2 linked regions of the Homo sapiens genome follow. The protein of the gene in region 1 purifies or fractionates together with the protein of each later gene. This does not show direct contact. Each region holds a gene or a part of one and is shown on either strand. Other genes may lie near its edges.

What was found. The genes of interacting proteins can lie anywhere in the genome.
Region 2: the proteins of FGB (region 1) and ADK purify together in Homo sapiens (affinity purification with mass spectrometry; 2 studies listed by BioGRID and IntAct, with this or other methods). This does not show direct contact.

What each region holds. Positions count from the first base shown.
Region 1 is NC_000004.12:154,565,886-154,569,635, reverse strand, and holds part of FGB (fibrinogen beta chain isoform 1 preproprotein), read right to left. Parts: coding exon 3,637-3,750; intron 3,148-3,636; coding exon 2,964-3,147; intron 2,044-2,963; coding exon 1,816-2,043; intron 1,256-1,815; coding exon 1,142-1,255; intron 455-1,141; coding exon 329-454; intron 123-328; coding exon 1-122. UniProt on the Homo sapiens protein: Cleaved by the protease thrombin to yield monomers which, together with fibrinogen alpha (FGA) and fibrinogen gamma (FGG), polymerize to form an insoluble fibrin matrix. Fibrin has a major function in hemostasis as one of the primary components of blood clots.
Region 2 is NC_000010.11:74,525,099-74,528,848, reverse strand, and holds part of ADK (adenosine kinase), read right to left. Parts: intron 3,594-3,750; coding exon 3,423-3,593; intron 1,090-3,422; coding exon of another isoform or gene 1,075-1,089; exon of another isoform or gene 1-1,074. UniProt on the Homo sapiens protein: Catalyzes the phosphorylation of the purine nucleoside adenosine at the 5' position in an ATP-dependent manner. Serves as a potential regulator of concentrations of extracellular adenosine and intracellular adenine nucleotides.

The DNA of each region.
Region 1 (3,750 bases):
AGTGAATCCTCCATAGTGAGCCTTTACTTTGTCTCCTTTCCAGTCCTCCATTTCTATCAAAAGTTCTGTGGGTCCCATCCTGGTAAGCTGGCTAATTTTATCATTTCCAAGCCAATATTCACCTAAAAGAAAAACAAAATAAAATCTCACCAAAAATAAAATTTTGGGAAACTAAAAACTGCCTTTCTTCCCTTATCTTTAGCTTCCACATTTTTGTCAGGAAACTCCTCTTAACTGCCTAAAACAGGCTTCCAACAATGAATGTTTTTTAATTAAAAAAAATCCCATTTCAAATAGAATGATTTTATTTTGCATGCCTGTTCGTTACCTGGTAGGCCACAGTAATTCTTCCCATCTGTGTTGGTTGCAACATTTCCAAATCCCTGTTTATATGGATCCCATTTCCTGCCAAAGTCAACACTACCGTCTTGACGGTTCTGAATCACTGTCCATCCTTTGGTTGACAGAAACAAAAAGAGCATATATTAACCAACAGCAAATAATGTCACTTTGAAAATAATATCTGAATCCCCTGTCCATTCCATTTAGTATATATTTGGTGCTCTAAAATAGACACAATAAGGAAATAAATATGAGAGGTAAACTTGTAAAATCTTTGGAAACTGCAAGTGCTTTATCTTACCCCAAATTGTGAATTATAGATATTTTATAACTTTTTAAATATCAGGTTGAATTCCACATCAAATTACTCTTTGTCAGCTATGTTAGATGTTAGAGCTAAGTCTTGTTTCCTGGCTTTTTAATTAATTTTTTTTTTTGAGACAGGATCTCACTATCCTCTGTTGCCCAGGCTACAGTTCAGTAGCATGATCAAGACTCCAGGTTGTGGGCTCAGGTGATCTCCCATCTCAGCCTCCTGGATAGCTGGGACTACAGGCACATACTACCAACACAGCTGATTTTTTTTTTTTTTTGGTATTTTTTTTTTTTTTGTAGAGTTAGGGTCTCATTATGTTGCCCAGGCTAGTTTCAAACTCCTAGGCTCAAGCTATCAGCCCACTTTGGCCTCCCAAGGTGCTGGAATTACAGGTATGAGCCACCACACCTGGCCTTGTTTCCTGGCATTTTACGGTATCCAAATAATTACAGATCAACAGGTCAACAACTGTCGAAAGCTTACCTCCATTTTCTGTATTCATGTCACAGTATACTCTATACGGTTTGACAGAACTGTCAGGTTGAATGAGATACATTTCAGATGTTTCACCTCCTTTCCTGATAATTTCCTCACATTCTGCAAATGTAAGACAACATTATGTTCAGGGGTTTATGACATAATTACTTTGTATTTAGTCACCAATTCTTTAAAATAACATTACATAAGTTACTAAGGAGTGTGTTATTATAGACCTTTGAAAATAATATAACAAATATTAGATTTTCATTTTACTTTAGTAAGTCCAACCCAGTTTTGAGGACGTTTATCTGCTAAGAGGATGAACAAAGCTCTTCTCCACCTTTTGTGTCCTGGAATATCCATGAGCTCCCAGAACACACAAAATGGAGAAACTTCTACATCTATCTGTGGTTCTGCCATCTGTTCAAGCCAGTACGCAGATGCACACATCAGCCACCCCTGGGACTACCTGTGCCCCATCCTGCTCATCAAAACCAGCAAATGCACCAGGCCAGTCCAAAACACAACTGGCTAAGGATATTTTTATGATGTACTGTAATGTCATTATGATCTGTTGGGAAAATCCACTTAGCATTTTTGTTGTTGTTGTTGTTCTCTTATTTTTGGTGTGTGAGTTCTTCTGGAACTCTCTAAAAATATGTTTATGAATCAGTTACCTTTGCCAGACACCACAGGAATATTGCAACTGACAGTGCATGGGGTGCGACAATATTCCATTTGAGCTGAGACATCAGATTCTAACTTTTGTATTTTGCTTCTCAGGTTTTCCAGGATTGAACGAAGCACACGAAGGTTAGTTGGGATATTGCTATTCACAGTCTCATCTATATATAATTGGTGCTTTTCCAGTTCTGAGGAGTACTCATTGACTACATTTTCATTATCTGGAAAAATGAAATTATGTAGAAATAGTTAGCATTTTTGCCTCATAAAACTAATGTATTTAACTATACAATTTTGATTTTCTGAGAATAAACTATTAAACACTGAGCTATCACCAAGCAGTTATGATATATAGTCATATTTAGTGGAAATGATTTGGCGCATGACATATACAAATTAACATAAATCCTAACCACCATACTAGTAATTTACCATAGGTATACGCTAAAGATTGTGTCCAGTAATAAATGAAATAGGTTGTTTATTTCTTTGGTGAGGGAAAAGAGGAGAAAGCAGTATTGGGGTCTTCCATCTGAGAAGTTCAATCTTACAGAGTGGATATGCTTGATTTATTTATCCATTTCACATAAGTATAGCAGAACCTTGAAATTTATAAGATGTCATGATTCCTTTGATTTCTTTGAAAAATTTCCAACTGTGGGTATGCTACTCACTGAGATGCCTGTGCCAGGCTCACGCACTAGCTGTTTCCTGACCACCAAGTCAACAGCACTCAACATTCTGACCTCAAGATTCACAGGTTAGGTGTCATTATCCACAACACAATTGAATATATTATGGATAACTCTCTCATTCAAAACCTCAAATGTTAAAACTATAAATGCTAGGGGTTTTTTTCCACTCTGTAAATATTATCTTCTGAGTCACAAGTTTCTTGTATACTTAAAATAAGGAGTCATAGTAGAATTTTTCATAGAAAATCACACTTGCTGATGTCAGACTGGGAATAAGAGCTGAATAGTGCTTATCTGGCAAGTTGCAGGGGAAGGTGCCCAAAAGCGTATGAATGCTATTCACTAACCCAGAAATGTTAATCTTCTCACAACCATGCATTCTCGTGGCAGTCTAACGGTTCCAATTTTATAGCTGAAAATCGAATGGAAAGCACAAGGATATCTACCTTTTACTTGCTTCTGCCTCTTTTGCCACAGGTCTTTCAGCAAATACATGTACTGAAAGGAAGAAGAGGAGGTCTGGGAAACAGCTTCCACATTGTTATTTAACTCATCAACACTATTTCTGATTGGCCTTTCCTGTTGTAGCAAAGCCTCTTGCAACTGACATCCTGTAGGACACAACACCCCCTAAAAACAAAGAAAATAGCAGGCATTAGATGAAGGATTTGGGTCATGGACATTTGTTAAAATAGCACATAGGAAAATTCAGCGATACGATTAGCCAACATAAAAATTTATTATTTGGTTTTCTGTAAGACCAGAAATTCGAAAGTCATCATCATACTCTCATAGAGATTTAAAATATTACTTACCCCAGAAAAAATATAATTGGGCTATGAAAATTTTACCAACTAAACAAAGGCAGTGGCAAAATACAAATGGAAAGGTGGCACCCACATATCCTAATTTGAAATTTTGGGCCCAGACCAAAGAAAACAAGAAAGAAAGCCTAAACCAAAGGCCCAATATGTTTATGTTTTGAATTTTATTTCCAAAATAAACAAACAAAATAACAGTGATGGTAATGTGGGTCAGTGAAACATTAGCAGACTGCCATGACTACAGGCTTTCTCTGCATGAGAGAGCCACCACTGCAAGAAACATCAGTGCACCCACCAGGTCTGGGTCAGCGTGAAGACAGCCTCCAGCATCAGGGGCTTTTCTTTCTACTTTCTTTTGAGTGGCAGCTGCTTTGGCTGGACGAGCCCGATAGCCACCTCCACTGATGGG
Region 2 (3,750 bases), on another chromosome or scaffold:
ACAATTGTCATTCTGATGGGTGTGAAGTGGTATCTAATTTTGGTTTTGATTTGCACTTCTTGAATGGTTATGTTGAGCATCTTTTCATGTGTTTACTGGCCATCTGTATATCTTCTTCGAATAAATGTTTATTAAATTCCTTTGATCATTATTGAATTATGTTGTTAGTTTGCTTATTGTTGAGTTGTTACTGTGTTAAATATTCTGAATATGAATCCTTTATCAGATATATGATTTGCAAATATTAACTCCCATTCCACTAGTTGTCTTTTCACATTCTTGTTAGTGTCCTTCGATGCCCAAAAATTGTTAATTTTGATGATGTCTAATTTATCTATTTTTTCCATTTGTTGCTTGTACTTTGGAGTCTTTTTTTTTTTTTTAAGTGAAGATTGTTTTGATATCATCAGCATCTGCTGCAAACTTAAACCACTTTTGGGACTTTCTTTTCTCTTTTGTCTCTACCAAACTTTTAGCATCATTCCCTGATTCTAAATACATTTTCCACCTTCTTTTTACATGTCTTTTACAAATTTGAGCTTTTTTTTTAAGTTTTAAAACTTTTATAAGTTCAGTGTTGTCACTGTATGTTTACATATTCATTGATACAATTTACATCGAGATTTTTACTTATCCATTTTTGCAGATATGTACACAAAGATACATATTCAATAACTGAGAAACAAGTGAAACTTCTGATCTATACTTTCAGGTTTGTTCGATCATGACACTTCTGATAAGGATCATGGACATACCAGTTTCACCTCTTCCAGAAGGACGTCGTCATTTTATCTTAAGAGTTTACTCTGGGTTTTATTGCCGAATACAAATTCCCTCAATCGCTTTTTTCTTGCAGGTGCCTTTTTCCATAATTTTTTCTTATAACCAGCCCTTCTCATCCAAAGGCCACAATGAAGTCGAAGAAACCTATAGATGACAGCTTTCACAATCCTTCTCTTGCCTTTTCCTGTACTGACGTATGTTAGAGATCTGGCTGGCAGCTTCAAGACACTTGGAAGCAAGAGGGCCACTCTATTAAGGATCGCTGAAGTATGCCCACATGTCAGGTTTCTCTCAGATGTGGTAAGTCTGGGAGTGGAGGAAACAACTGGTGTCTGAATATGACTAAAACGTCCAGTGGACAATGCAGAAATAAGAGAGGCATTTTTGACACAGTTTTGGTAGGCTGAAGATGCCAAAATATTCAGAGGCCATAAGATTCCTGAAGCTGCTCTCACTGCACCGGCAAAGGCAGAGGCAGCTATCTCGTTATCCTCCAAATTTGAGCTCTTATTAAAGAGTTTTCTGCGTGCTCTGCTATATTTTTTCAAAAGGTCCCTCCACATTCTCTCCTTAATTAAGATCATTTGTGACTATAAAGTCCAAATAGCATTTTTTATGGCATTCAATCTCCCTAAGCTTTCTTTACTTCCAAAGTTTCATTCTTTGGAATCATATTTATGTTTTTTTTTTTTTGTTTGTTTGTTTTTTGAGACGGAGTCTCGCTCTGTCCAGGCTGGAGTGCAGTGGCGCGATCTCGGCTCACTGCAAGCTCCGCCTCCTGGGTTCACGCCATTCTCCTGTCTCAGCCTCCCGAGTAGCTGGGACTACAGGCACTCGCCACCACGCCTGGCTCATTTTTTGTATTTTAAGTAGAGACGGGCTTTCACCGTGTTAGCCAGGATGGTCTCAATCTCCTGACCTCGTGATCCACCCGCCTCTGCCTCCCAAAGTGCTGGGATCACAGGCGTGAGCCACCGTGCCCGGCCTCTTTGGAATCATATTTATCTTTTTTAAAAGTTTTAAGATTTGTCTCTTAAACTCTAGAGAACTTATTTAAGTGCTGCCAGTCTGATCTTTCTTGACTATTTAGAACTCTGAGACCAAATGTTAACTTCTCCCAATGATTCTCAAGACTACTGAGACCAATGCTTTAATGTTATTCAAAAGGCTTGAATAGCACTTTTCCCATTTACTTCTTTTACCCTTTACAAAATAAAACTGTTAATAAGGAAAAACTAAATGGTAGATCTTAGTCAAATTAGGCTTCTAGCAGTTATATGGCACTTGGCTATTACCACTATTTCTTGCCAGTATCTCAATTTGTGAATTATCAAGAATATAGCATTTCCTTCCAATGTCACCATTTATAACCAATGTAACCATCACCTTTGCAGATACACTGTGATATTATTTCTATGGATCATCCTTTAATCTTTACCCAGGTGATCTCGTAAACTTCCAGGTCAATTTTTATGTTATTCTAGGCAGATGGCAGTTATTAGATATAAAATTGATGAATATATTCAAACTATGTTAGAACTATGGAATTAGAATCAGAATGAACTTCTGGGATGATTAATACAATACCTTCATTGTATACATTAAACCATCAAGTGACATGGCCAAGTCATAGGAAGACACACTGAAGGATTTTTTCCTCTTTCATGGATTTTTAAAGAGGTATAAACAGTAAATAAGAGGTATAAACAGTAAACAAGCAATCAAAGTAAATAAGCATTTAAGTAAATAAGCATTTCCATAATTTAGAATGGAAGAAAATACATTCTTGGTAGAAAGAAAAAACTGTACTTGTTGAGATGAAATTCCATTTTATCACCTTCAACTATAACAGACAATATTTTAAAAATATTATTAATAAAGAAATATAAATGTAATATATCAAAATTTACTCATAATTTATTAAACAAATATCAAATGGACTTAGACTCTGAAGAGACTTAAAAAAGTGATGAATGTGCTTTTTTATCCTGATTGTGGTCATAGTAACAGGACAGGTATCCATCTGTAAAAACTCACAGAAATTACAGTAAAAAGGATGACTCTTACTATAAGTAAATCAAACGTCAAACACCTTAAAAAAATAAATGTTGGGCCGGGCACAGTGGCTCATACCTGTAATCCTAGCACTTTGGGAGGCTGAGGCGATCAGATCACCTGAGGTCAGGAGTTCGTGACCAGCCTGGCCAACATGGTGAAACCCTGTCTCTACTAAAAACACAAAATTTAGCTGGGCATGGTGGCATGCGCCTATAACCCCAGCTACTTAGGAGGCTGAGGCAGGAGAACTGCTTGAACCCGGGAAGGAGAGGTTGTAGTGAGCCAAGATCATGCCATTATACTCCAGCCTGGATGAAAAGAGGGAAACTCCACCTCAAAAAAATAAAAATATAAAAATAAATAAATAAATGCTTCACTAAGAAAGAAGTTAGTATATACTGAAGGAAATATTGAAAATACTGAGAGCAGTTGACATTGAGGCAATTTTGTTGCACAATTCTCAAGGACATTTACACAAAAATTTAGGATTTAATTTATATATTTCTAAACATATATACACACATCAGAAATAAACAAACAAAAAACCCCCAGGTTCTTTTGAAAAAGGAAAGGTAACTCACTGTCTCATTTCCAAAAAGTATATCAACATAAGGCATAACTTTCATCAATGATTCCTTGTAGAACTGGCTAATAAACGGTGCAGATAGATTCAAAGTGAAAATCCTGTTGTTTTCAGAAGCATGGTGAGCCACCTTTAATACTGACTCTGGGGAAACTGTAAGAAAAAAGCCCTGGATGAAGAAAAAAGGAGGGAAAATTAGAAATACCATCTCCACAGTCACTCTCAGTGAGAATAAAAGAAACCTATACAAAATACAAAAGTATATAAAATACAATTATAAGATGCAAGGCAGAAAATAGCAACATTTGACTGGAAGGATATTTGAT